Homo sapiens: one gene and its partners. The protein of the gene in region 4 interacts with the protein of the main gene of each other region in a pairwise test. Each region holds a gene or a part of one and is shown on either strand. Other genes may lie near its edges.

Region 1 (6,860 bases), on a different chromosome or scaffold from region 4:
AGAATTCACAATGTTGGCCAGGAGCGGTGGCTCATGCCTGTAATCCCAGCATTTTGGGAGGCTGAGGCGGGCAGAATCACAAGGTTAGGAGTTCAAGACCAGCCTGGCCAACATGGTGAAATCCCATGTCTCTACTAAAAATACAAAAATTAGCTGGGCATGGTGGTGTGTGCCTGTAATCCCAGCTACTCGGGAGGCTGAGGCAGAATTGCTTGAACTGGGACCCAGGAGACAGAGGTTGCAGTGAGCCGAGATCGCACCACTGCACTCCAGCCTGGGCTACACAGCAAAACAAAAACAAAAACAAAAAACAAGACAATGTCATAAAGAACCTGGTGATAAGGTAGTTCAGTATAATACATGGCTGAAATGGCAACCAATAGTTTCATTATATGATTTGTGTTTCTATTTACCCAACATTCACTTCCCTGGAGTGTTAACATTATGAGGCAACAAATCCCAAGCCCTTACTTTACTCTTGTAATTCCAGAAGTATCCTCCCCCAAAAGAGATCAGAGCAGCAGCCCAACCCCAGTCCAGAGAGACTCACCAATCAGCTCAGGGTCTGGAACAGACTCCTGGAGTTTGCCAGCAATAAGCTGCTTCAGAAATGAAATACTATAGCCCCCTAGCGAGTATTCTCCCAGTTCTGTCTCTGGCAACCGAAGAATAGACTTTGGAGTAAGTGGCTGGTCAGCCAGCTTCACCGCCAGGTGCCAGTCTGAGAGAGACATCCTCTCTCTTTCGCGCTCTCTCTTTCTCCCTGTAAAAGAACAAAACCTCAGTGGTTAAAAGACAGACCACCACTCTACTCCACCCCCACCCACCAAAGGGTTGAATGAAAGACAATTCAATGTGACACTGTTGAAGAGGCATAGGGCGTACCATCAGGAGGCCAGAACTAGAATCTGGGGTTCTCTCTCTACTCATACTGTGATGGACAGCTCTCTAGGCCTCAGTTTCTTCATCCCTAACGTGGACATAAAAACGCCATCCAATCTAATAGGAATGTTGTGAGAGAGATCATCTAACCCTCTCCCTTCTGTATGCCCCTTTTTCCAATTTTCTTCAACTGTTGCTTGAACCAGTAGAACAGCTTTATAACAAGTTCCCTGCCTCTTGCCTCTCCCTATCAAATATCTATGCTGCCACCTAACAACACCCATCATTTTTTTTTTTTTTTTTGAGACGGAGTCTCGCTCTGTTGCCCAGGCTGGAGTGCAGCGGCGCGATCTCGGCTCACTGCAAGCTCCACCTCCCAGGTTCACGCCATTCTCCTGCCTTCCTGCCTCAGCCTCCCAGGTAGCAGGGACTACAGGCACCCGCCACGACGCCAGGCTAATTTTTTTTTTTTTTTGTACTTTTAGTAGAGACGGGGTTTCACTGTGTTAGCCAGGATGGTCTCGATCTCCTGACCTCGTGATCCACCTGCCTCGGCCTCCCAAAGTGCTGGGATTACAGGCATGAGCGACTGCGCCTGGCCACAACCCATCATTCTAAAACACAGATCTGACCAAGTCACTTCTCTGCTTAGAACTCTTCCAATGTCGGGCTGGGCGCGGTGGCTCATGCCTGTAACCCTAGCACTTTGAGAGGCCTAGGCGGGCGGATTGCCTAAGCTCAAGAGTTCAAGACCAGCCTGGCCAACATGGTGAAACCCGTCACTACTAAAAATACAAAAATTAGCTGGGCGTGGTAGTGCGCACCTGTAGTGCCACCTACTCGGAAGGCTGAGGTTGCAGTGAGCCAAGATCACGTCACTGCACTCCAGCCTGGGTGACAGAGAGAGACTCTGTCGCAAAAAAAAAAAAAAAAAAAAAAAAAAAAGCCAGACGCGGTGGCTCACACCTGTAATCCTGTCACTTTGGGAGGCCGCGGAGGACGGATCACTTAAGATCAGGTGTTTGAAACCAGCCTGGCCAACATGGTGAAACTACATCTCTACTATAATAGAAAAAATTTGCAGGGCGTGGTGGCAGGCGCTTGTAATCCCAGCTACTTGAGAGGCTGAGGCAGGAGAATTGCTTGAACCCGGGAGGTGGAGGTTGCAGTGAGCCGAGATAGCGCCACTGCACTCCAGCTTGGGCGACAGAGACTCCGTCCCTCCCTGCCCCACCCCGGCCCCCCAGAAAAAGACCTCTTCCAATACCTCTAAACCATCTATATAAATTAAGTCTAAACTTCATCGCCTGGCTTACAAAACTCCCTGCCAGCCTCATTCCCCAACAGAGCCCTACCCCTGCAAAGGACCTCCACAACATGTAAGTACACACTCATAACAAAGCTCTCCCCTATTTTACACCTCTGCTCATCTAACTCTGCATGTAATTTCTCTTCCCTTTTTGGCCTTTTAGCAAACTCCTACCGAAACCAACACAGATTCAATAACCTCAGTCCCCTCTCTTTCCTCTGTTGTTCCCACATCCCCTCAGAACAAAAGGGCTACAAATATCTGCTTGCCCCCTCCTCCACCCCAATTCTTGAATGCCCTTGAAAACAAAAGACTAAAGTTTTCTTCATCCTTGTCCCCATACCTGGCATACATGGAACCCCAGAAAATAAATCAGAAACTCTGACGGCGGAAGAATCTTGCAAAGCAAGATAAGTTCTTGTTATAGTCATCATTATTGCTTCCAAAGAGACCTCTGATAGAGAAGAGGAAAGAAAAGGCTGTGAAGCTGCCTAGCAGACCTTCAAGCATCCTCAAGGTATCTTCCACCTCAAGTTTATGCCAGAAGGAGGTCGTTTTATATACCATGTCTCACTTAATCCTCACAACGGTTCCCTAAGGCAGGCATTAGCCACATTTTAAAGATGAGGGAAGCAAGACTCAGTAAAATCACTGGCCCAAGGTCACAGATCGCTAGTAATGGGGCAGGAACACTATCCGGTGGCGACCTCACCGCTCCAGTGGGACCAGCTACTTGGCTGACACACATCGAGCCCGCGCTGCCCAGGGCCCCAGCGCCCTCACCCGTCCCGCGGAAGGAACCCGGCCGCACTGCCGCCGGTGTAAACACTCACTCTGGCCCTCTCGCCGGAAACCGGAAATTCCGCGCTGCATTCTGGGAGTTGCAGTTCCCGCTGTGGCCCCCCGCCCCCTTATAAACAGCCAGTCTACAAGAGGCGCTAGTTGCAAAGCTTCCGGTTCTGGGGGAAGGCGTGGCTTCCGCGCTCTTTGAAATGTCCGGCGCCGGAATGTCTGGGTGCTTTGGTTGGAGAGGGTCCCATTTCCAGTCATTCTTCAGCCTGGTGATTCCCGCGCTCCCCTGAGGAGCATATGAAGTACGTCGGTTCTGCCAGGTTGGAACGCGCTGCTGGACACTCGGCCGTAAGGCGGATCCCGGATCCCCTCCCACTCCGACCCTTCCCTCCAGAAGGGCCGGTTCCCAAACGGCCCCTTTAGACACATCCAAGCGGTTGCCGACGGCCCTCACGATGAAAACTGCTGTCCGTTGGTGAAGGCAGCCTCTTCTGTGCTCCTCGCCGCTGACTTCCTGAGGCGGACCTACCTGTGGAGGCATACCAGGAACCAGACGATGACCCCCTCCAAAAGTTGGGTCTTTGAGGAGAGCTACTAACTTGGGTTCCTGGTACACCCTCTACATGCAGTGGTGAAGCTTATCTAACAGTCATTCATAGAATCAGTTTGGGAAGGGGAATTTTCACTGAACTCTCATAGAGAAACTGTGTTTTAGATAACAGAAAGTTCTGCACGGTTAAAATGGAACAGAAATTTTTTTGCACAGAAATTAGGATTACCGAAAATACTGAAGAAAGACTACCTCTGATTGGACTCTTCTCAAGGAATTAATAATTCAAGAACTAAGGAAAGAAAAAAGTGATTATATGAAAATACTGAAGTTGATCGTAGCAGCTGAAGGCTGATCCTGTGTGGGTAAATGTAAACGCTGAATTCCCACATTCCAATGTGCGACCTGGGATTAAGGCAGCAATTGAGCAGGGTAATGTTACTGAGGAGAGCGAACAGATCGCAGGATCTCAGAAGGCCTAACATTAAAGGCAGATCACCCCTCTGTTCTCATAAGTTATATGGGGAGTTTTGAAATGGCTTTCACTGTCTTCAGGGAGTTTATCTTCAGGATAACTCCCATGTATGTTGTGGGCGCATTAGGAACCCATGGCTGTTCCCAAAGTCTCCCTTTCCCATCCTACCCATTTTTAGATATACCCCCTCTTTCAGTAATCCTTCCTAACTAGACTTCTTTAGACTCCTTCCTCTCCTGCCTACTAAGTTACTTGCACCTGAGCTCCATAATTTATCAAAATTATATATTGTGAATACTTTCCCAGTTCATGATTTTTTTTTTACTCTTAATGGTATTAGATAATTTAATTTCATTTTAAAACTTTTTTTTTTTTTTGAGACGGAGTCTTGCTCTGTCGCCCAGATTGGAGTGCAGTAGTGGCCGATCTCGGCTCACTGCACCCTCCGCCTCCCGGGTTCAAGAGATTCTCATGCCTCAGCCTCTTGAGGAGCTGGGGCTACAGGTACCTGCCACCACGCCCGGCTAATTTTTGTATTTTTAGTAGAGACGGGGTTTCACCACGTTGGCCAGGCTGCTCGAACTCCTGACCTCAGGTGATCCCAAAGTGCTGGGATTACAAGCGGTAGCCACCACGCCCGGCCTGAAATTTTGTTGTGATGGTTAGTGCCTTTTGTGTCCTATGTAAGAAATCTTTGCCTGCCCTCGTTATGAAGATACTATCCTAGGTTTTCTTCTGTGTTATTTTATCTTTCACATTTAGGTCTATGATTAATTTCACATTAATCTTTGTATATGATAGGAGTTAGACATCAAGATTCATCTCTTCCATATGGGTGTACAATTGATCCAGCACTATTTAAAAATTTTGTTCCCACTGAATTTCAGTGGCAGCTTTGTCATAAATCCGGTGACTATGTATGTCTGGGTCAATTTTTGACTCTTATTCTGTGCCATGGGTGTATTTTTCTGTCATTGTGCCAATGTCACACGTCTTGATTTCTCTAACTTTAGAGTAGGTCTTGATATCTGCTAGCCTTTTGGCTTTAAGAGGGGCATGGCTATTCTATCACCAATAGATGACAATTGTTAACTTTGTTTTATGCTTCTAAAAGTATAATTTTACTGAATCTTAAATATGTATATTCAACAAAATTTAGATTACACTGTACATTTGTTTAGTAATCTACATATTTTACCTAGCTTGAATATTTCCCCTGTGCTCAAATATTCTTGAGACTTTTTACTTTGAAATAATTTCAAGTTTACAGTACAGTTGCAAAAATATTACAAAATAATGCCCTCATACCCTTAACCCAAAGTCCCCAGTTGTTAATAGTTTACATTTACCTCATCATTCTTTCTCTCTCACTCTCTCACTATGCATATTGTTCTTTTGTTTTTCCACCCGATCCGTTTAAGAGCCAATTACAGACATTACCCAAAGTATTTCTGTATTTCCTGAAAACAAGGATATATTCTATGTCACAGCCACAGTACAACCCAGCAAAATCAAGAAATTAATAAATACAATAATACCATGTAACTTACAATCTCATTCAGCTTTCATCAACCATTCCAGTTGGGTGGAGGCTGATCATCTCTCTGCCATTTTCATAAGTTATGTCATAGATTTTCACATCTGTCACATCATTCATTTCTCCAAAGAGCCTTAGTTCCTTTTAGTAAGGAATGGTATTTAGAAGCCAAGTTTGGATGCTAGGTGTGTTTATTGCTACTGAGATGTCATTATTTCCAGTCTATTTCAGTGACTAGACCTAGCAAATAAATGAATATTGATATACACACCCATTCATCTATATTTCTATGAAATATATTTAAATATGTGTGCATATAGATGTGTATATGTATATATAGATCTATGTATATGTGAGCATATATATGTGCACATATATCAAAATATATATGTATATATAAAATATGAGTTCACACCAATACCTCAAATTCCAATCCAATACCACATATTTTCCTCTAGTCTTCCTCTTCTCTATAATTTTACCTCCCTTCTGCAATAGTAGGAAACTTGATTCTCATTTTCCACAATATACTTGTATTTTCTCATGTTGACATTCATGGTACCTGATATGGTTTGGCTCTGTGTCCCCACCCAAATCTCATGTTGAATTGTAATCCTCAATGTTGGAGGAGGGGCCTGGTGGGAGGTCATGATGTTTGGATCATGGGGCAGACTTCCCCCTTGCTGTTCTCATGACAGTGAGTTCTCAAGAGATCTGGTTGTTCAAAAGTGTGTAGCACTTCCCCCTTTGCCCTCTCTCTCCTGCTCTGCCATGTGAAGATGTGCTTGCTTCCCCTTCACGTTCTGCCATGATTGTATGTTTCCTGTGGCTTCCCCAGCCATGCTTCCTGTATAGCCTGCAGAACTGTGCGTCAATTAAAGCACTTTTCTTTATAAATCACCTGGTCTCAGGTAGTTCTTTATAGCAGTGCAAGAACAGACTAATACAGTACCATAACAATGGAGCCTCCTCTTCAACTTGATTCTTGAGTCCTTTTGACATAACCCTGGAGGTTTTTGATAGCTCCCTGCTATCTAGCATGACAAGAGTTCCTAGCTAATCTTGTACTTCCTGCCCTAGGCATAAAAATTAGCCATTTCTTCAAGAAATTCATATGGTTTTCTGTGGGAAATGGTATATTAAGACCACAATCTGGGCACTAGGGATGCTTATTGCTACTGAATTGTTTGTTACTTGTAAGCCACATTAGTGGATGGAGCTAGGGGGAGATCTATATCCATAGAGATATAAATAGAGAATATTTATACTGCTACTTCAAATTCAAGACTACAGAGGTTGGGTTTGGTTTTGGCTT
Region 2 (7,866 bases), on a different chromosome or scaffold from region 4:
GATTGGAGCCAGGCATACCTGAATTCAAATCCTACTTTCTCTACTAACCTGGTGTATATTCTAGGATGAGCTCCTGCTTTTTTTGTCTTTCTACCTTTCTGAGCCTCAATGTGGTAGAGGATGCTAGTTTTTCAGCAATATCCATTCTTCCTCCTTTGTTCTAGAACTTCTAAGCTTCATCTGGTCATATGGCTACCTAGTTACAGACCATATTCCCCAGCCTTTCTTGCTGCTAGTTGTAACTCTGGGATAAAGTTCTGGCCAATGGAAAGTGAACAGAAGCGAGACCTGCCATTTCCATGTTATACTCCTAAAAGAAAAGGTCTTACTCTCTCTTCTTGCCTTTCTCCTTCCCTATGGAAGGAGCACAGTCATGATGGCAGAGCACACTTATGATGGTGGGAGCTGAAACAACCACTTTGGTCCTAGAGATAGAAATCATTAATGAAGATGGCAGAGTTGCCAAACCAATCCTGGTCCGTGTATCTTGGGTGAGCGCAGCACCTGTGACGACTATATGAAACAGACATAATCTTCAATCTTATTTAAGCTGCTGTTTTTGGAGTCTCTTTGTTATAAGAGCTTAGACTGTACTCGAATATATTTACTTTTCTTAGTTGTAAAATGAGAATAATACCTAGCAGGGCTGTTGTAAGAAGGAGTATGCAGTGGGAGCTAAAAAGTGATAGCTATGATTATTATCCAAACTTGTGCAGCTTTCTTTCAGCCTGACATCAAAGTTATGGTCTGGGCAGAATTTCTGAAAGTGAGACACCTGAAGTGGTGTGACTAGCGCCAAAGTCAGTTGCAATCAAGATTAGGCACTATACAACCACCCCTTCACCCCTTCATTCCCCAAACTCTGTGTTCAGCCAGTGGTCAGTTGGCTAGTGAAACAATAGGAAGAGAAAACTCTGTGATGCAGGTAGCAGGTAAAGAGTTAGGACAGATATTTGTAAACAGGAATTTGATTTTCTACAATGACAAATGCTATACAAATTTTATTCTTATCTCTTCGTGAAACTTTTGGTAAGATATCTAGTTCTTGATGATGTTTTTACGGAGTTGCATCTATTCTCAGGCTATGTTTAAGTGTTGAGTTCAGCCTTAAGGGGCAAGAGTAGAGGGAAACTTGAGATACTCAATGCGGCAAAAAAGGAGCAAGCTGGCGAAGAAAGGTTGCATTGTGGTAACAGAAGAGCACACGAGGCCTGCCTCCGCATCCACCACCCTTAGATATTGGACAGTCACTAAAAGTTGGAAAACAGTGATTTTTGAGTGCAGATCTGTAGTGTCAAAATCAGAAAGTCTCGCATTATAATCCTTAATTACAGTCACTTCATATTTCCTCTCATCCGCCTCACCAAAAATAATTGGCATATCCTTCTATTAATAGTAAATTTCAAAATTCATGTGTTCTCAGGAAGTTTTTGGCACAGTTAAGCACATACTTATTAAACAGAAATTTCTCAGCACTTACCCCATCGTATTATGGGCTTGGTTCTCCATGTCAAGAAACTGCTACATCTGGTTTATATTTCTTGATTTTTAATCTGTTAGGAGGAAAATGATACAAGTTCCTAAAATGTTTATATTCTTTAACCTATAAAACATGAAAATTTTGCTACTGGCAAAAACCATTTAGTATGAGTTTTTCTGTGTAGTAGCTCTTGATCCTACAAAATATAGAAACCTGAGTTTTCTGTTTTGGTTTTTTGTTTGTTTTTTGAGACGGAGTCTAGCTCTGTGGCCCAGGCTGGAGTGCAGAGGCACGATCTCAGCTCACTGCAACCTCTGCCTCCCAGGTTCTAGCGATTCTCCCACCTCAGCCTCCTGAGTAGCTGGGACAGGCAATCGCCACCATGCCCGGCTAATTTTTGTATTTTTAGTAGGGACGGGGTTTCGCATGTTGATCAGGCTGGTCTCGAACTCCTGACCTCGTGATCCACCCACCTCGGCCTCCCAAACTTGAGTTTTTTGTTTAGCGACCCCTATGCATTTACGATATTGACTTAGTGATTTATTGAAATATGTGGTACGGACTAAAATGAGCATCCATTTACTACTTATTGAATAATAGCTTGTACTACGTTGTTCGCAAACGGCTCAGTACATGAGAATGAGTAAAACAGAATTCCCATTAAAAGAGAAATTCTAGCCAGATGTTCTCAAACTTTCTATTCTTGTGGTTCCCCTAAAGGTGTGCCTTTATTTGAGTACATTCTTTCTTTGGCCCTATCTGGGTTTTGTTAGGATGACTATAACTATGAGATTTAGGACAAAAAGGCTAAGAATGCCTTTAAAAAGAAATCTTGAAATTCTTCAATGGCTCTATGGGCACTGGCTCACCTCTTGACAAAATAGGGATGTTAGCATTTGCCTAAAGTAAAAAAAAAAAAAAAGTTTTTCTCAGTAACACAATTTTAGTTAAAAAATAATCTATGACGATAACTGGAGAAAGTATTGAAAAGGACTTCAACTCCTCCGAATCACTGAATAAAAGTCAATTAAAGAACATTCAAGGAGGTAGAAAGAGGAGGAAGATTCGAGCTCACATCACTTCCAAATCGAAGAGTTTTAAGAGAGACCCTGGAATTAAGAGAGACAGAGCGGAGAGGAGCAGGGATGGTGAAGGAAAACTTGACCAGAAGGAGCAGACCAATAAATGGTTTTGTAGATTCTCAAATATCTCACTTAAACGTCAGGGAAACTGAGGCACAGACAAGTTAAGTGGCTTGCCCAAGGCCACACAACTGAAGCCCAGTCCTTCTAACTTAGGGCGCAGCTCTGCTCTGGATTTGCAAGCGCGGGCCTCCCCTCCCAGCCTCTGTCCCCGCGCCACGCGCCCCTCCAGGACCCGCGCTCGGTTCAAGCCCAGCCTCCCGCAGAGCGGCCGCCCTTTTGGGGTTCCCCTGTCCCGCTCGAGGACCCGCGCAGCCTGGCCTTTGGGTGAGGGTCAGGGGCGAGGCGGGGCCGGGAAGGCCAGGAGCCATTACCTGCGCTGCGCCGCGCTCGCCCGAGAGGTCTGAGGCGAGGGCGCAGGACCGCGTATGTCACCTCCCGCCCCGCCAGGCCCGCCCCAAGGGGCCCCGCCACCCGCCGCCGCGCTCCCGCCGCCTGGGCCCTCCCGCCGCGCGACCAACGAGGCAGTTGGGCCTCTCCCTCCCCGCGCGCGGCGCCGCCGCGTGTTGCCATGGGGACGTCGCGGCCCGAACTCGTGGCCGTCGGAGTGGGGGATGGGCGCGGCGGCGGCGGCAGGCGCTGCCCTGTGCGGCTCCTCGGCTGCCTCCAACCTCACCCCGCGCGAGCGCGACCTCGCTGTCCCGCAGTTATACGTCCAGTGCCCCCTCTATTCTGGGTCCTTTCCTCTTTGTAGTCCCACTGCCTACCCCAAGGCTGGGCACCCAAGCTGCAGCCCGGAAATACTTGTTGAATGAATGAACCAAATAGATCACGAAGGAACTGTAAACCGCTGGGGAGTTCATCATCCAGGTTCCTTAAATCCCCTTGGCCCTCTTTCCTCTTACCCAAATTTGAAGTGGCATGAAAAAGAAATAAACTTCGGGTAAAGAGAACTGCTTTTATCTCCGTTCACCCTAGCGTCTTCCAGCTGGGAGGAGCTGGATTTCACCGCTCAGCCCCTGGTTCCTGTGGTGATAACAGCATCAGCTTGTACCTGACTTTCCCGTCAAGCGCGATGGGTCCTTAAAACACTGCCAGTCAGGCGAACGGACAGTGTTGCCTCCCTTCAGGGAGAAGAGAATAGCTTCTAAGAGGAGAAGCTGGAACGAAACTCAACGGGACTGATTCCAGATTCTTTCCTTTTTCCACCAAATTCCAAGAGTCATTGATGACAGATTTTCTGTCTCCATTTCATAGAGGAAATAATAGGAAAGAATATATGTTTTCCAACTGACATCTTGAGTGATTTGTTTTAAGCACTTGAATTTTGTATTTGATTTATTTTAACCAAATAATTCCTTCCTAACACATGGAGTCGACTACTTAATTCTTAAAGTCTTTTATTTGCACTTTACTTTCATCACTTTAACGCTAATTTGCTACTTTAATATTCTATGAATTTAATGCGCACCCACATCCCTCCGTCCAGGTCCCATCTGAATTTTATAAAACCATTATGCTGTTTCTTGACAAATTGAGCTTCATAGATGAATTGTATACGGTCACCTGGGATATCAGTTCTAACAGGTGTTTCATAGCTCTCATGTTTGCATGAAGAGAGTGACTGTGTTATCTTAACTTGAAACTTTTCATTATTCTGAAAACGCGTATATTCTTTATTCTTATCTGAATTGAATGGGTCAATGTATTTTTTCTAACCCAAGGAAGGGAAAATGGAACTAGGAACGAAATTTAATGAAATCTCAGGATGCCCAAGATCACTAAGGCTATGTAACATTGCTAAGTGCTTCCATGTTCATTATTTCTTTAGAGGCTCAGAAATACACTCAGCAAGTGTATCAGGTGTTATTAATAGCTTCTTTCAGAAGATTAGGAAACCCAGGCTTAGAGAGAATGAAGGATATGTCCATGGATTTGTCCATGGATTTGCACTTGAAATGGATGATACATCAAGATGTAAACCTAGATCATCTTACTCCAAATCCAGTGTTCTCCAAACATTAAGGTTGAGTCGGTTTCTTTAGCAGTCAGGATCTTCCTTAGCAAACTGTAGGTTTAATGTTTTCCTTTTTTTTTTTTTTTTTGAGACGGAGTCTCGCTCTGTTGCCCAGGCTGGAGTGCAGTGGTGCCATCTCGGCTCACTGCAAGCTCCGCCTCCTGGGTTCACGCCATTCTTCTGCCTCAGCCTCCCGAGTAGCTGGGACTACAGGCACCCGCCACCACGCCCGGCTAATTTTTTGTATTTTTAGAAGAGACGGGGTTTCACCGTGTTAGCCAGGATGGTCTCGAACTCCTGACCTCGTGATCCACCCGGCTCGGCCTCCCAAAGTGCTGGGATTACAGGAGTCAGCCACCGCGCCCGGCCAGGTTTCATGTTTTCACATAGAAGAATAGGTGCAGGGGAATGCTTGCAAAAACATTTAAGAAGACACATACTATAATGGATTTTAGGAAAATTTAAATATAGAATAGGAACATCCCATTCAATTTAATACGAATAAAGGTTTTCATTTCAGGATGAGAGTTAAGATTTAAAATGCAAATACCTGTTCCCTACCCTGCTAGTAAGAAGTAACAGTAAAGACTTGAATTCACCTTGAAATGTCCTTATTATTAGATATTTTCAGGTAAGTTTGTTTTGAAAGGGATGAGACCAGGAAAGCTCCAGTCTAAAGGAGAGGAAGAGTGTGGCCAGGGTGGAAATCTTCCTAAACAGGGTTAGTGAGAGTTGACAAGAGAGCTTAGTCATGAAAGAAAATTGGAGGACATGGCAAAATGAGGATAAGATAAAATGTAACCGGAAATGGTCAAAGGAGAATATAGGGGGCATAAATGGATGAAGAATAAGGATGACCTTTGGAAGAAAAGCTAAGGGACCAATTATAGGGAATAAATAATAAAGCAATAGGCTAAACCTTTAAAATTTAAAAACCTTCATAACAAAATCATTTCATGGGAAAATTTATAATAGCAATATAGTAAATGAATGTGCAACTTTAGCATATGCGTGGCTATATAAAATAACTTCATGTCTGTCTTTGTATCAACAAGGAAATATTTATTTTTATATTTTTTAAAAAGCAAGTTTAAAAATTATATATATTCATTATAATTTTAAAAACTAAGTATACCATTATGCATAGAACATACCTTAAAAATTTTTTTAAAACAATTATGATGAAATAATCATAGAATTGTAAGAAACTGTAGAGGAGATACAGTCTAACCCAGGGGTCCCCAACCCCTGGGCTGCATACTGGTACTGGCCAGTGGCCTGTTAGGAACCTGGCCACACAGCAGGAGGTGAGCAGCGGGCAAGCATTACGGCCTGAGCTTTGCCTCCTGTCAGATCAGTGGTGGCATTAGATTCTCATAGAAGCGCGAATCCTATTGTGAACTGCACATGCCAGGGATCTAGTTTGTGCACTCCTTATGAGAATTTAATGCCTGATGATCTGACATGGAACAGTTTCATCCTGAAACCATACCCCCTGGTGCCAAAAAGGTTGGGGACTGCTGGTCTAACCTCTTCATTTTGGATGTGAAGAAACTCAGATCCAAAGAGTTATAATTATTTGATTAGTCTCATTGTTAGTTAATGGCAAACATTTTCAAAGGAATTTTCTGGAGATGCTTAATACACATTCTAGTTGAGAAAATAACCATTCAGCAGGAAGAGATTCAGTATTTAGAACTAAGATCACCTAGAGCAGCACTGTCCAATGGAAATATAATGCAAGCCACTTGTATAATTTTAAATATTCTAGTAGTCAAATTTTAAAAAGTAAAAAACAGATAAAGTTTATTTTAATAACACATTTATTTCATCTAATATATCTAAAATATCATTTTAACACCTAGTCAATATAAAAATTATTGAGATATTTTATATATTTTTTGCATAGTTTTTACTTAAAGCTGAATCAGTTCATTCTGGCCACATGTAGGTGCTTCATAGTCACACATGACTGGTGGCTATCATATTGGACAGGGAAGCTGGAGAACATGGGTGCCTGGTCAATGTCCTAAAGCTCTTCATTAAAGTGTGAAGGGCAATGCAAAGAGAGAGATTCTTAATTATTTGGGGGTGATTTGAGAGAGATTTTGAAAATGTCCTACCTCAGTATCCTTACCAACCTGCTCTGGGCTGCGATAGGCATTAGACGTCTGAAGAGAAATACATAAATTTGAGCCCTTAACCAGGCAGCATGAGGCCTTTCATTGTGTCATGCCTGCTAGGCCTGTCAATCATCACTATCAGGGCTGCTTCTCCTCCTGATGGGACTTTAGAAGCGCCAGGTTTCACTTGAGGATCAGAAAACAAAGCCAAATTCTTTGAAAAAATGGCTATTATGATTTCTAAAATTCTCTACTTTTACTTTTTATGGACTTTTAGAGTTTCGACACTGTGGTTTTGAAAATGTCATCCTTTTTCAGATATTAAGGGGAGCTAAAGGAGAAAGATTTTTGTATAGTCGTGAGCTAAAGTTTTAAAGATGTAATACTTATTTCCTGGAGCCATTCATGACTAGGACAATGTTGAAGTGAAAGGGCCCTAATGGGAAAAACAAATTTGTAACCAGAGAGGAAAGTTGGGCCTGCCTGCTTAATGGCCTCTTTTCACTTGGGTCAACTTCTTCTCTGAGCTCAACTCTGCAGAAACCTTTCGGGTCACTAGCTAATATGATGGAAATTACTGGGTCAAAATATAGGAAAAGACATGAACCTAGAGAAGTGAGCCCAGCACTTAAGGCTGCTTTCAAAGGCATTTGATGCTCTGGAAGAAACAGCTGCAAAACTGAGCAGCCGTTTGATAGTCTTGTGAAAAAAAGGGGCAGAAGACAAAGCCTGGGCTCAATAAATAAATAAACATCCCCTGTCTTTAAGCTGGGGCTCCAGATGACTTTACCCTCAGGAAAATGGTGAGGTGGAAATAAATCGGTACTCCTACTGACTCACAGCCAGCTTGCAATCATCTGTAATTTGGGACAACCTCCATCTTTGAACTCAGAATAGGGTCATACTAGACTGGTAGGTTAAGATACCTGGAAGAAGCAAGCAGGAATTTTCCTAGAAATAACTTCTCAAATACAAAGGCCAGAACAAAAAGAAAAATAGAAATTCTAAAACTAGAAAAAAATTACTAATAACCAAAAATAAGAACACAACAGATATGAATAATGATAGATTTGGTACAGGTGAAGGGATAACCTGTGAATTGGA
Region 3 (4,766 bases), on a different chromosome or scaffold from region 4:
CTTTCCGCCTCAGCCCCTCTAGTAGCTGGGACTACAGGTACGCACCACTGCGACCAGCTAATTTTTTTTTTTTTTTGAAAGATGTGGTTTTGCCACGTTGGTCTTGAACTCCTGATCTCAAGTGATCCGCCTGCCTCAGCTTCCCAAAGTGCTGAGATTATAGGAGTTAGCCACCACGCCTGGCCCTTGATGTTTTCATACTATGGGTTATGATCCATTAGTCACTCATGAAAACATCAGGATACACTGTAGGTGAGGATACAAATTTTGTGAAACTTTTCTTTTGGTTATATATGTGTATGTAGGTCAAAATGTCTTTCTTACTGTCGTTGAAAGCCACAGGTTTAGAGAGCTGGGAGGACAGGGGCTCTCCCAGTCCCTAATTGCACCAAATGCCTCGTATTAATCATAGTAGAGCTAAAATGAAAAAAAAAAAAAAAAAAAAAAAAGAAACACACACCTCAGTATCTATCAACAACAGTACCACAGAGAAACTCACATTGTTAATTAAAGTATATAATGTAAATATGGTATTGAAAGTATAAAAATTAAAGGCTTCTGAAAAACTCAAGAAGGGTCAAAAGGCTATACAAGCAAGTAGTATACAGATTGTTTCCTTAAAAGATAAATTTTAATATACAGAATAAAATCCAAGATGATTTTATTATTTTTCACTTTCCCAAAACTTGTGAGCATGAATGCTTCTAAATCTGACCAATGAAGTTTACATTTTGGTCCAATACATTATGAGACTAACTTGTATGATCAAGTCCAGCTTGATTATCATAAATCATAGAAGTTAACAATTTACTCTGAGAATCTGTTGCTAATATAGATGATGGATTTCCAATTTTTTCTTAGCTAAGAATTTACTCAACTTTAGCTCAGAACCAGATTCAAAATATCTTCTTTAATTAGCTGGTCATCATTTTAGGCTTAATCTAGGCAAATTATTTAATACTCAATTGAAGATCATATAAAACCTCCAAAATAAATAAAAAGTACACAAAATTATTAGCTTTTGTGTACAATACAGAAAATACAGGTCAGTTCTGGACCAAAATAATTGCATTAAAATACAAAAGGTGATAGGGAAGAATTAAAAGATTTGCAGTGACTGCTTTTGGTGGTCAGCTACAACAAGCCAACAACCCTCAGCTATTTTGGAAAGTGAAGGTGAGTCTTAATTTGCAGATAATGAATGTCTTCGGTAGTTTAAAAAAATATAAACTCTAAAAAAGCTCGTGAATCATATACAAAAGCAGCTATTTGAGACCAAGGTTGAACACCAGAAATTGTGTTAGCACCACCAGCAAGCACAGGGTCCTCTGACTCTTCCGCCCTCCTATCTTGTGCAGAATGCAGACTTGAATGTTGTACACATCATTTACAGTTACAAAAATCGGCCTTGAGTACAGGGTTCCTGTAGGGTAGTCTTAAGTCCTAAGAGGCACCAAGCGGTTACAAAGGCTAGGTGACAATCCAAATCACAAGGTCCGACGATATAATAAATCCCGTGTTGCCTTATCAACTTTTTGCTGGTAGTCCTCCAATTTGTCAAGTATTTTCTGGGACAGCTATAAGAGAAAAGAAGGAAAACATTACATAACAGCTCAACAATGGAAAAATATTGAAGTTATTAATAACTTTGACTTCACCAAGTAGATTCCACCTTATAAAGATGTTAGCCACTCTGCTTCATAAAATCACCATTTGTTATAGGAGTCTCCTCTGTGACTCTACTGATAAAACTAGGCCTCTCTGTTATATACAACATTTCAGTCTCATTTTCTGAATGAATTTTCTAAGTATGGAAATCGTACCAGTATTTCTAATAAAAGGATCACTAACTCTTTTCTCAGAACCAGAAATGCTGCATCTGATATAACTAGTTATTAGCTGCCAAGTGAAATATAGAACTAATATTTTAGATAGGCTCAGGAGGCACTCTATCTCACTGGTAAACAAAATAAGCCATCACTATAATGACTCAAGGAAACACTATTGTTTTTTATGTTAAGGCAAGCAGGGTGAATATATGACTCCTGAGAAATGTTGTTATATATGCCAACTTCCCTCAGGACAGTGATAATTTATCACACTGTATTTCTTTCTTTTTCAGGGTGGGGGAATGGAGTCTCACTCTGCTGTCTAGGATGGAGTGCGGTGGTGCAATCTTGGCTCACTGGAACCTCCGCCTCCTGGGTTCAAGCGATTCTCCTGCCTCAGCCTCCCGAGTAGCTGGGATTACAGGTGCCCGCCACCATGCCTGGCTAGTTTTGGTATATTTAGTAGAGATGGAATTTCACCATGTTGGCAAAGCTGATCTCGAACTCCTGACCTCTCAGGTAATCTGCCCGTCTCAGCCTTCCAAAGTGCTGGGATTATAGGCGTGAGCCACTGCGCCCGGCCTATCATTGCTGTATTTCAAGTACCTGTTTACCTTGTAGGGTCTGCCCTACCAAATTAAAAGCTTTAAAGGATGGACCGACTGCTTGCCATTTGTCTCTGTATAATTAACACTTACACAGTTCCTCATTATGTTTTCTTGATCCTGTTACTTAGATCCTCTGCCTTATCTATAAAGGGACTGGGCAGTTTGTTAAGGGCCAAAAATAGGCTTTTGTCTTCCCTTTCTAATCCCGGAGAACTGAAGATCAAGCTGTAAGGTGTAACTGCTAGTGCAGGGGCTTACACAAGACGTCTCATGAAAGGGCTGACTTACTGCGATGTTGTGACTGTTGGCACTGTTCTCTCCCAGAGCTTGGAGAAGCTGATCAATAGAGGAGTATGGAAGCCACACCATTGGGGCTGTTGCGGACAGTGGAAACTAAAAGGAAAATGTTTATTTGAAAACAGTCTGCAAAGTGTACCATTTCTTCTGGGTAGTTGCTTTCATAGGACTCTGTAGAATAAAATACCCTTTTTTTTTTTTTTTTTGAGATGGTCTTGTTCTGTCGCCCAGGCTGAGTGCAGTGGCACAATCTCAGCTCACTGCAACCTCCGCCTCCTGGGCTCAAGCAATTCTTGTGCCTCAGCCTCTTGAGTAGCTGGACTACAGATGTGCACCACCATGCCTAGCTAATTTTTTTATGTTTATTTTTAGTAGAGATGGGGTTTCACCATGTTGGACAGGCTGGTCTCAAACTCCTGGCCTCAAGTGATCCACCTGCCTTGGCCTCCGAAAGTGAGCCACTGTGCCCGGCAAAATAAAATGCATTTTTTCCCCCAACCACAAGAAACTGTGTGTATACATGTGCATGCACACAATGGGAACCCTCTTTTCTCCAACTGGGAAACTTGTCATTTTTTTCGGTTAAATATATTTAAAAATTCATGTCGGCTGGGCCTGTAATTCCAACGTTTTGGGAGGCCGAGGTGGGCGGATCACAAGGTCAGGAGTTCGAGACCAGCCTGGCCAATATGGTGAAACCCCGTCTCTACTAAAAATACAAAAATTAGCCAGGTGTGGTGGCACAGATGTAGTCCCAGCTGCTCGGGAGGCTGAGGCTGAAGAATTGCTTGAACCCGGGAGGCGGAGGTTACAGTGAGCCGAGATCATGCCACTGCACTCAAGCCTGGGCGACAGAGCGAGACTCCGTCTTGGAAAAAATAAAAAAATAAAAATAAAAAATAATTTCATGTCAACTTTCTTTTTTTTTTCAGACAGGGTCTCACTCTGTCACTCAGGCTGGAGTGTAGTGGCATGATCATAGCTCACTGTACCCTCAACCTCCAGGGCTCATGTGATCCTCCCACCTCAGCTTCCCACATAGCTGGGACTATAGGCACGCACCACCATGACCAGCTAATTTTTTTCTATTTTTTGTAGATAAAGGTTCTCACTATGTTGCCAAGGCTGGTCTTAACCTCTGGGTTTAAACGATCCTCACACCTTGACCTCCGAAAGTGCTAGGATTACAGGTGTGAGCTATTGCACCTGGCTGATTTCATGAGGGTTGAAGCTGTAGTTAACTACACCTATTTAGACCTGGCTCTTCTATTATATTTGCCATCTGTATGAGCCTGTGATAACCTCTGAGCCTGTTCCCTCATGGGTTAAAAAATAGAAAATTAAAACATTCCTTCATAAGGCTGCTATAAGGATTAAATAAAAAAATGCTTGTAGAGACTTAACACAGTCCCGGCACACACACAATACCATTTTGTTTATCTCTCTCCACTGAATCCTAACTAATGCCATATTATTTTGATAGAGAAAGATGAAATTCCTATTTTATAAACAGGAGACTAGAGATTCCTAGAGTGTCAATATTTAGTTGTATAACTACAGATAGTAAAGGTTAAATACACTAACATATAGTTCAATTTACTCTCAGATTCTCACCTTACATAGCATGATAATAAAAAGAAATGCCTAGGCCGGGCATGGTGGCTCACATGGGTAATCCCAGCACTTTGGGAGGCCGAGGTGGGTGGATCACTTGAGGTTAGGAGTTCCGAGACCAGCCTGGCCAACATGGTGAAGCCCCATCTCTACCAAAAATATTAAAAAATTAGCTGGATGTGGTGGCAGGTGCCTGTAATCCCAGCTACTCAGGAGGCTGAGGCAGGAGAATCACTTGAACCCGGGAGGCGGAGGCTGCAGTGAGGGAGTAAGTGGAGGCTGCATCACTGCACTCCAGCTTGGGCAACAGAGCAAAACTCAGTTAAAAAAAAAAAAAAATATATATATATATATATATATATATATATATATATATATATATATATATATATGCGCCTATACCGATGTTCCTCAACTT
Region 4 (7,033 bases):
AGATGCCCTAACTTATTTAACCAGAGCACACTAGCATTTTACAAGTCTGATCAGCTAAGTTTCAAATACCTGTAACCCATCTGCTGAAAAAAGAGGGAGACTGGATTGACATAGGGCATAACTGCATCTTCTAACATCAGAAATGATGTTTAATAGAATTGGAGTGGAGAAAGGAGTACTTAATTTCTCCAGAGAATGTACAGCAGAGACGCACCTGCTTATCAAAGAAGCTGCTGTTGATGCTGAAGTTTCTTTTATCAACATATTCACCTGTAATTTCATCAAGGTAATAAATCCCTCTATTCATAACAGCACACTCAAAAGCACCCCTCCTATTTAACTTGAATGAAAAAAGGCACAGAGTGTCTAAAACATTTACTTTTGCTAATGTAACAGTGTTGGCATTTTACTTCATTCCTGATAAGCTGGTGCCAGTAGAAGTGATTATTCTTTTCTTATTCAAAGCCTATCAGCATTTCGAAAAGCTCTCTCAGTCTTATCAGGTGTATGAACAGCACAGTTAACTGAAAACAGTTTGTACTGCTCCTCTCTCTTTCTGCCAAGCTATCTGATAAACCCCCAACTAACTAACTGTATTTACACACAATCAAACATAAGTTGTATCTTCTATGCACTATAGCCAGATTCCAGTTTACCATAGGTTTTTCTGCTGTAACATTAACTTAGCAAAAATGTCAGCCTCCAGTATCCCAAACTGACAACAATCAAGAAAACACTATAAAAGCACTCAACTAGAATGCACTACAAACAGAAACAAAAAGAAAAACAAATATAAAAAGTTGAAGGCAATCTCTTTGGAATTCAGAGGGAAAATCAGGTGTACTCTGTATGCAAATATGGGTGAATATCATGCACTTACCTTTTACCAAAGTAAATGACCCTTTAATAAAACAGATGAATAGAAACAGAAATTGTAAAGGAAAATACTGCCGGGATAGAGGAAGGGAAGGTGTTTAGGAAAGTGTTTTAGAACTTAGCAGGCATTCCCCCCACACTTCAGGTTATCTCAATGTGGCAGCAGAGAAGTTCTATAATGTAAGCAAAGGAAGACAATAGACAATATCACCGAACTTACCCCAGAAACTGAAGACAAGATAGAAAGCAAGGCTGTCACATATGGTGACCACATTCTCAGGATAGATTTTCCAATCATTAAAACCCTCATAAATGCTCTAGACATTAAAGTTTTGTTCACTATAAGAAAATAAAGAAATAAAAAAATACAATTTGAGTTTTTAACCTCTTATTATTTGTCTTATTCTTCAGACTTAACCAACTGAATAGTTCAATATAAAGACATGAAAAAAGAATCATCATTCACATTAATGTAAATAGATGATCTGTTCTCCATTTCTATCTATTAAAAAATGCTTAAACTAGGTCATGGCTCATACGAATTGAAAGACACACCTAATCATTTACGGGTAGTACTTTGGAGCATGAAAGATAACAATGACATTTCTAGAGCATAAGAGAAATCGGAAATCTACTTGAATGACTGAGTAACAACAAATTCCTGACCCTAGGAAAGAATCTCTGCCTGAGCTTCTGTGCATAAATTGTCCATTTGTTCCTCACCTCCCTTTGCTGAATGACTACGAGAGAACAGAAAAAGGCGGCCACATGCTCCCACCTGAGCCCAACTCCTGATGCTGTCTAGACTCCAAGAACAGAATGAGCCTTCCTTTAGATGTGTAGAGCAATAAGATGAATTAGCCAAGTGTGTAGTTCAGTACAATTCAGCTGATAGTTGCTTTTCCATCTGTGACACTATGATCCCATGACTGATGAGGCAGGTCTCATTCAAGTCTATGGATAAAAGGGATGTTTCCGTCATTTCATAGGACCCAGCACCAACTGTATACAGTCACTTTCTCATAGGAAAAAGACATGGTTCTCACCAACCATATACATCTTTCCCTTTCTTTGGTCATGAACAGTTGGTTACGGGTATGATATTCCTCCTCAAAATATCTGATCTGTTTTAATGGATTAATGGCTGAAAAGAAATTAAAAATTATCAGAATATTCTTTTATTTATGTGAAAATGAATACAATTTAACATGCCCATCTTACATTTTTGGAGAAGTTAATGTACTAGGATAATTTGGAATTATGGAGGGCAAAGGGCAATCAATTGAACAACCTCACAGTTTATTTTTTTTCTCTTTAATGAGTACCTCAGTCTATAATTTTTTATATGACCTGTTATTTTGGTTAATTTTGGATGCAGTTCTGGATATATGACTAATATGCATTTACTATTATTTTCAAAGCAACATAAGTTCTTATAAATATTGTTACATAATAACTGCCTTGAAAAGTATCCTTTTAAGATATTTTAACTCACATTGTGAGTATGAAAAAAATACATATTTCTTTAATGAATCCTTTGTTCAAATTCTCAAAAGCCATGAAAAATGAGTAAAATCTTTCTAGAGTAGATGAAAAAGGAATTATCATTTACAAAGGTATTGTTGTGATCATGGAAAAAAAGAATTTAGTGTGCTTCTGCCTATTTTCTGTACATAAGTTCTTAATTTATATTTTAATTTTCTTTTGTTTTTGCATATTGAATATGCCATACAAAAAGAAAGCGTAAGATTTTTTTGTTTTCCAGAAAACATATGCAAAGTGCAACAAAAAGAGGTGTCCCCTGATAAAGGTGGATTGTCCGTGTTCCTTTGGATTCTCCACTTCTTCAAGTTTTTATTTACTTCATAAATAAGAGCCACTGAGGTTCACCACTTCAGAGACTTTTGTCTTTCTAAACCTATTTTACTTTCAAGGTAGTAGAAAAATTTGAATGAACCTAATTTATTTTTTTCTTGGAAACTTATTGCTATCTATGCTATCTGTATTCCTACAGTTCATTTTTAAAGATAAGTAAGCAAGCAAGCTGTTTTTTCATTACATTTATACTAGCCATCAATCTGATATGAGAATTTATTGGTAGCTTCCCTTTTATTTAGTACCATCTTAGCCAACTGTTTGCAGAAAAGGTGTATAATGAAGCAAAGTTAAATTGACATGTCTGTGATATGCCTGACAGCCCTCAGTATGCCCAATATTAATTTGTTTTCTTTGGCTAGGTAAGTCCTGCCAAAGCATATTACACATAATGTGTACTTCCAACCAAAATGATGAAAAGTATATATGAAATTTTGTTTCACTCAAAGAAAAATGAGAAGTCACAGAGGAATATATATGACAAAGACTGTTTTTTATAATTAAAATATAAATGTACTTTTCAGTTCTTCTTTTAGAATTTAATCTAATCTGAAGTAGGCTCCCTGTAAGTTTTGGCAATTTAATAGGTATTTAAAATTTTTTAAATGCCAAAACCAAGTGTTTTCCTTTTCTATATTGTTTGAAAGAATTCCATATAGCCATAGGTTGTATTTCTAATTGTTAGTGTTGCGTGGTTTATAGCTACATTCAAATGCACATATAGATCTTTGCCAGTATACTGAAATGGACTTTAACTGACCAGAAGGAAGCCAATTTCTTTAAAACTGTACCTTTTCTTTCATTGTTTTGCCTCAGTAAGTTACCTTCCAAGTATACATGCATTGTCATAAATTAAAATGACATATCATTTGAAGAAATCAAAACATCAAAAGCAAGTTTCCCTCAAACATTTAAAATTATTTTTAAACATTATAAGGGGAAATTTGTGTATATACACACATATATACAACACTCAATAAATCTAAACTCTCTCAATTCAATAGTTTTGGATAATTGAGTGGAAGATACTTTTGGAAAATCCTGGATAATTGATTAGAAAACACATTTGGAAAATACTGAGAAATATTGTCCAAATCATAGGACAAGAAACATGTGTCACTTCTGGAAAGAAAAAGTAGAGTGGAGAGATGTGTGTGCTAAAACTCTGAATGGAAATTATTTTATTAGCTTAGGTTTCCTAGACCTTACAAAGTACAAGACTAAAAATGAACTTGAAACAAGAATAAAAGGCCAGGTAAATCCTTCAAAAGGCTGTCATTTCCCACCCTCAGATAATAAAGGAGCTAACTTTGATCTGATAGATTGGCATAAAGAAGCGGTTAGCAGAATTTTTTTAAAAACACAATAGCAGTAAATTTGTTAAAATGTTATGCAAATAAATAAAGGTAGGCAATGAATCTAGGAATTTTAAAAAGAACATGAATTAGAACAAGAATTAGAATAGAAAAAGCAATTGCATAAGTGCTTTCTCTCAACAGTCATTTACTAAGTAAATTCACAGACTTCTAAACTTACCTCTTAGAATAAAATTAAATAATTCTGAAATCTATAATGTACTTTATAGAAATATAATACTTATAGTTTTATATATTTGCTTTTAGAAAAAGAGCAAATGATATGTTTATGTAGTACAGATAAAGGAAATTCATATTTTGCATTTGTTTGAAAGCTATCATGCTTTACATTAAGATGTATTTGTCAGGCCCAATTGTGTAAGAAAAGAATGTAGCCAAGAGCTAATTCAAAATTGTTTCTTGGATATGGGCCCAAACCATTAAATTATACATTTAATATCAGTAGTTTCTTTCCTATTTTACAAATTATTTATGATTTCCAGATACTGAATACATGAATAACAATAATGTGAAAATTCTAAAATCAGAAACAAATTGACTTACTAGGTTACCTGTTACCTGTCTAACACACAGTAGTTAAGTAAACTCAGATTAAAATCAGATCTGTAAATACCTGAAATACCAATTCCAGGTTAAAATCATGCCTGGCAAATTTAACTGGCAACTAACTGATTAGAATAATACTTGAGATCTACTTTATTATATAAATGTACATGAATACTTTTAGCAGCATACCTATAATCTACGTATACATTACCTCTTCCCACATACATGCATATTTCACATGCATACTATACATGCACACAAATATACTCCTGGGTATCCTATCGACTGCTTTGAGTTTTAAAGTACCATGTGTGTATTTATTTATTAATAATAGTATAGTTCATGTATATCCACATATACATGGCTATCAAAAAAATCAATGACAAAAACATACAAAATGCAATGGAAAGATTGTCAAGCAGCAGAGATGCTTGGTGTCATCCTTGCACTATCAAATATACACATAAGTATGATTGGAGAAAGAGAGGCTAAATATCTCACTGTCAGAGAATGTAGAGAACTGCAATTCATTCTATCTGTTGTGCTTTAGGACATGACAATTTAATACAATGCCAGTGGATGTAAAAGAGATAAAAATGGAACAAACTGGGCCAGTGTAATCAAAGATTTTCTCCAGAGAGCTGGCTAGGGCCGGAGCTCATACGCACTTATAATAGATCAACATTGTATTGTTTCTCTCTTCCATGAATTTGCTATGAAGCAAAATTCAGAGCAAAGCTTATCTGCTGCAATGACTCTAAAGTTCTACTGAGATCCCTCAGATCCTCTCCTCTTATTTCTAAAAGCTGGATAAGTGATGCTAAAAAGTTTATTTGATATTAATTGGTTTAATAGAAATCATTGCTATTAATTGCCATTTGTATGAAAAAGTATCTCTCATCAGCATATAATTTATTTTATAAAATAATACAAAGCAAAACCTTCAGTGCTTAACATCACTTTACAAGTAAGACAGAGAAATATTTTCTTTAGTCATTGAGCTAAAACAAATGTTGAGGAATTTTTCGTAAGTGATACGGACTTGAGATTGGGCATTATGCCTACCTTCCAAAAGAATGGCTTCTTCTTTGTCTGTAATTCTTGCAGGAGTGAGGTATTGCAAAAGTATTGTTAAATAGAATCATAGAGAAGTTAGCTTCCTTCTTTGATGAATAGCACCAGGTATCTAAAATTAATTGCAAAAGTATGGCCCGGCTAATGAGATGGTCCTTATCTTTTCTCAGCCAGGAAGCACAAGTATTTTTCTGCTGGCTCAATATTTTACAAAAATGCCTGAAGTGTTATTAACTAAGTAAGAAAAAAACTGATTAAAATACCTCAAAGATATAAATTGTTATAAATTGTAAGATCTGAAAAATTTAGAGTTAAAGCTGATTTCCTGCATTATTTTTAAACCTTCTTTTCTTTTCTTTTTTCACTTTAAAAAGAACAACAACAAAAAAATCTTTCCTCCTGCTTCTATTAGCATTTTTAAAAGCTGAGTTAATTATTATTCTTTATAAAATGACCAATATATATTACAGGTCAGATTAAATCAAAGAAATATATCAAATGCCGTCAATTTAGGGAAAAAAACAGAACAATGATACCTTATTTGGGGAAAACACTAGAAAAATGATCATCCATGCAAGAGAATTAATGGATATCCACAAGGGCTTTGCTAATAACATGGGTTAATTACCGCTGCAACACACTAGGCTCAGTAAATAAAGCAGCAGTGCCATAAACACATTAAGATGAGAAACCATCACTGTAAGAAGAAATAGCCAACACCATCACCCTTAGCTCTGCCCAGGAAATGAAAGCTGTTTCTTAGTCCTTTCTATAAAAAAGGGATTTTTAAACTTACCACCAAATGTGTATAGGGTAATACATAAATACCCTGACACAAAGGGCTAGTGGAACATGGGGTACCCATCATTTATCCACCACTCCCATTCAATATATATTTCATTAACTCAGGAACAGTTGTTTTTTTGTTGTTTACTTCAAGGAGAAAATCATATGTTACATAATACTAGTCATCTGGCCATTTCAACTATATATAGTTTGGAACATGTACAATGATTACTTAATTTTTAGGAAAATAGAATTAATCCGCTCACTTTAGTAATGTAATGGGCAAGGTTACAAAACTACAGCTCAAGAATGCTCACAACTAATTGCAGCTGATTGTCACTTCAAGCAGTTTACAGAGAAATCATCTGAAAACTCCACCAACACCACATACCTTTAAGGCTGCAGGTGTTTTCAAGATTGTAGGGAAAAAAAATAAAAAACAAAACATGAAGAAAAGTCATGTGAGCTCCAAGTCTAGAGTTTAAGTATTCTTACTTGAA

What was found.
Region 1: the proteins of ESRRG (region 4) and UBL7 interact in binary tests that used the Homo sapiens proteins (3 or more experiments, as listed by UniProt).
Region 2: the proteins of ESRRG (region 4) and DEUP1 interact in binary tests that used the Homo sapiens proteins (3 or more experiments, as listed by UniProt).
Region 3: the proteins of ESRRG (region 4) and NUP160 interact in binary tests that used the Homo sapiens proteins (3 or more experiments, as listed by UniProt).

What each region holds. Positions count from the first base shown.
Region 1 is NC_000015.10:74,458,134-74,464,993, forward strand, and holds the start of UBL7 (ubiquitin-like protein 7), read right to left. Parts: upstream 3,028-6,860; 5' UTR 2,904-3,027; exon of another isoform or gene 2,626-2,903; coding exon of another isoform or gene 2,535-2,625; intron 971-2,534; exon of another isoform or gene 886-970; intron 764-885; coding exon of another isoform or gene 735-763; coding exon 551-734; intron 1-550.
Region 2 is NC_000011.10:93,325,903-93,333,768, reverse strand, and holds the start of DEUP1 (deuterosome assembly protein 1), read right to left. Parts: upstream 3,028-7,866; 5' UTR 2,997-3,027; intron 1,554-2,996; 5' UTR 1,510-1,553; coding exon 1,481-1,509; intron 1-1,480. UniProt on the Homo sapiens protein: Key structural component of the deuterosome, a structure that promotes de novo centriole amplification in multiciliated cells.
Region 3 is NC_000011.10:47,777,618-47,782,383, forward strand, and holds the end of NUP160 (nuclear pore complex protein Nup160), read right to left. Parts: intron 2,831-4,766; coding exon 2,726-2,830; intron 1,578-2,725; coding exon 1,488-1,577; 3' UTR 501-1,487; downstream 1-500. UniProt on the Homo sapiens protein: Functions as a component of the nuclear pore complex (NPC). Involved in poly(A)+ RNA transport.
Region 4 is NC_000001.11:216,713,420-216,720,452, forward strand, and holds part of ESRRG (estrogen-related receptor gamma), read right to left. Parts: intron 1,831-7,033; exon of another isoform or gene 1,655-1,830; intron 1,216-1,654; exon of another isoform or gene 1,097-1,215; intron 1-1,096. UniProt on the Homo sapiens protein: Orphan receptor that acts as a transcription activator in the absence of bound ligand. Binds specifically to an estrogen response element and activates reporter genes controlled by estrogen response elements.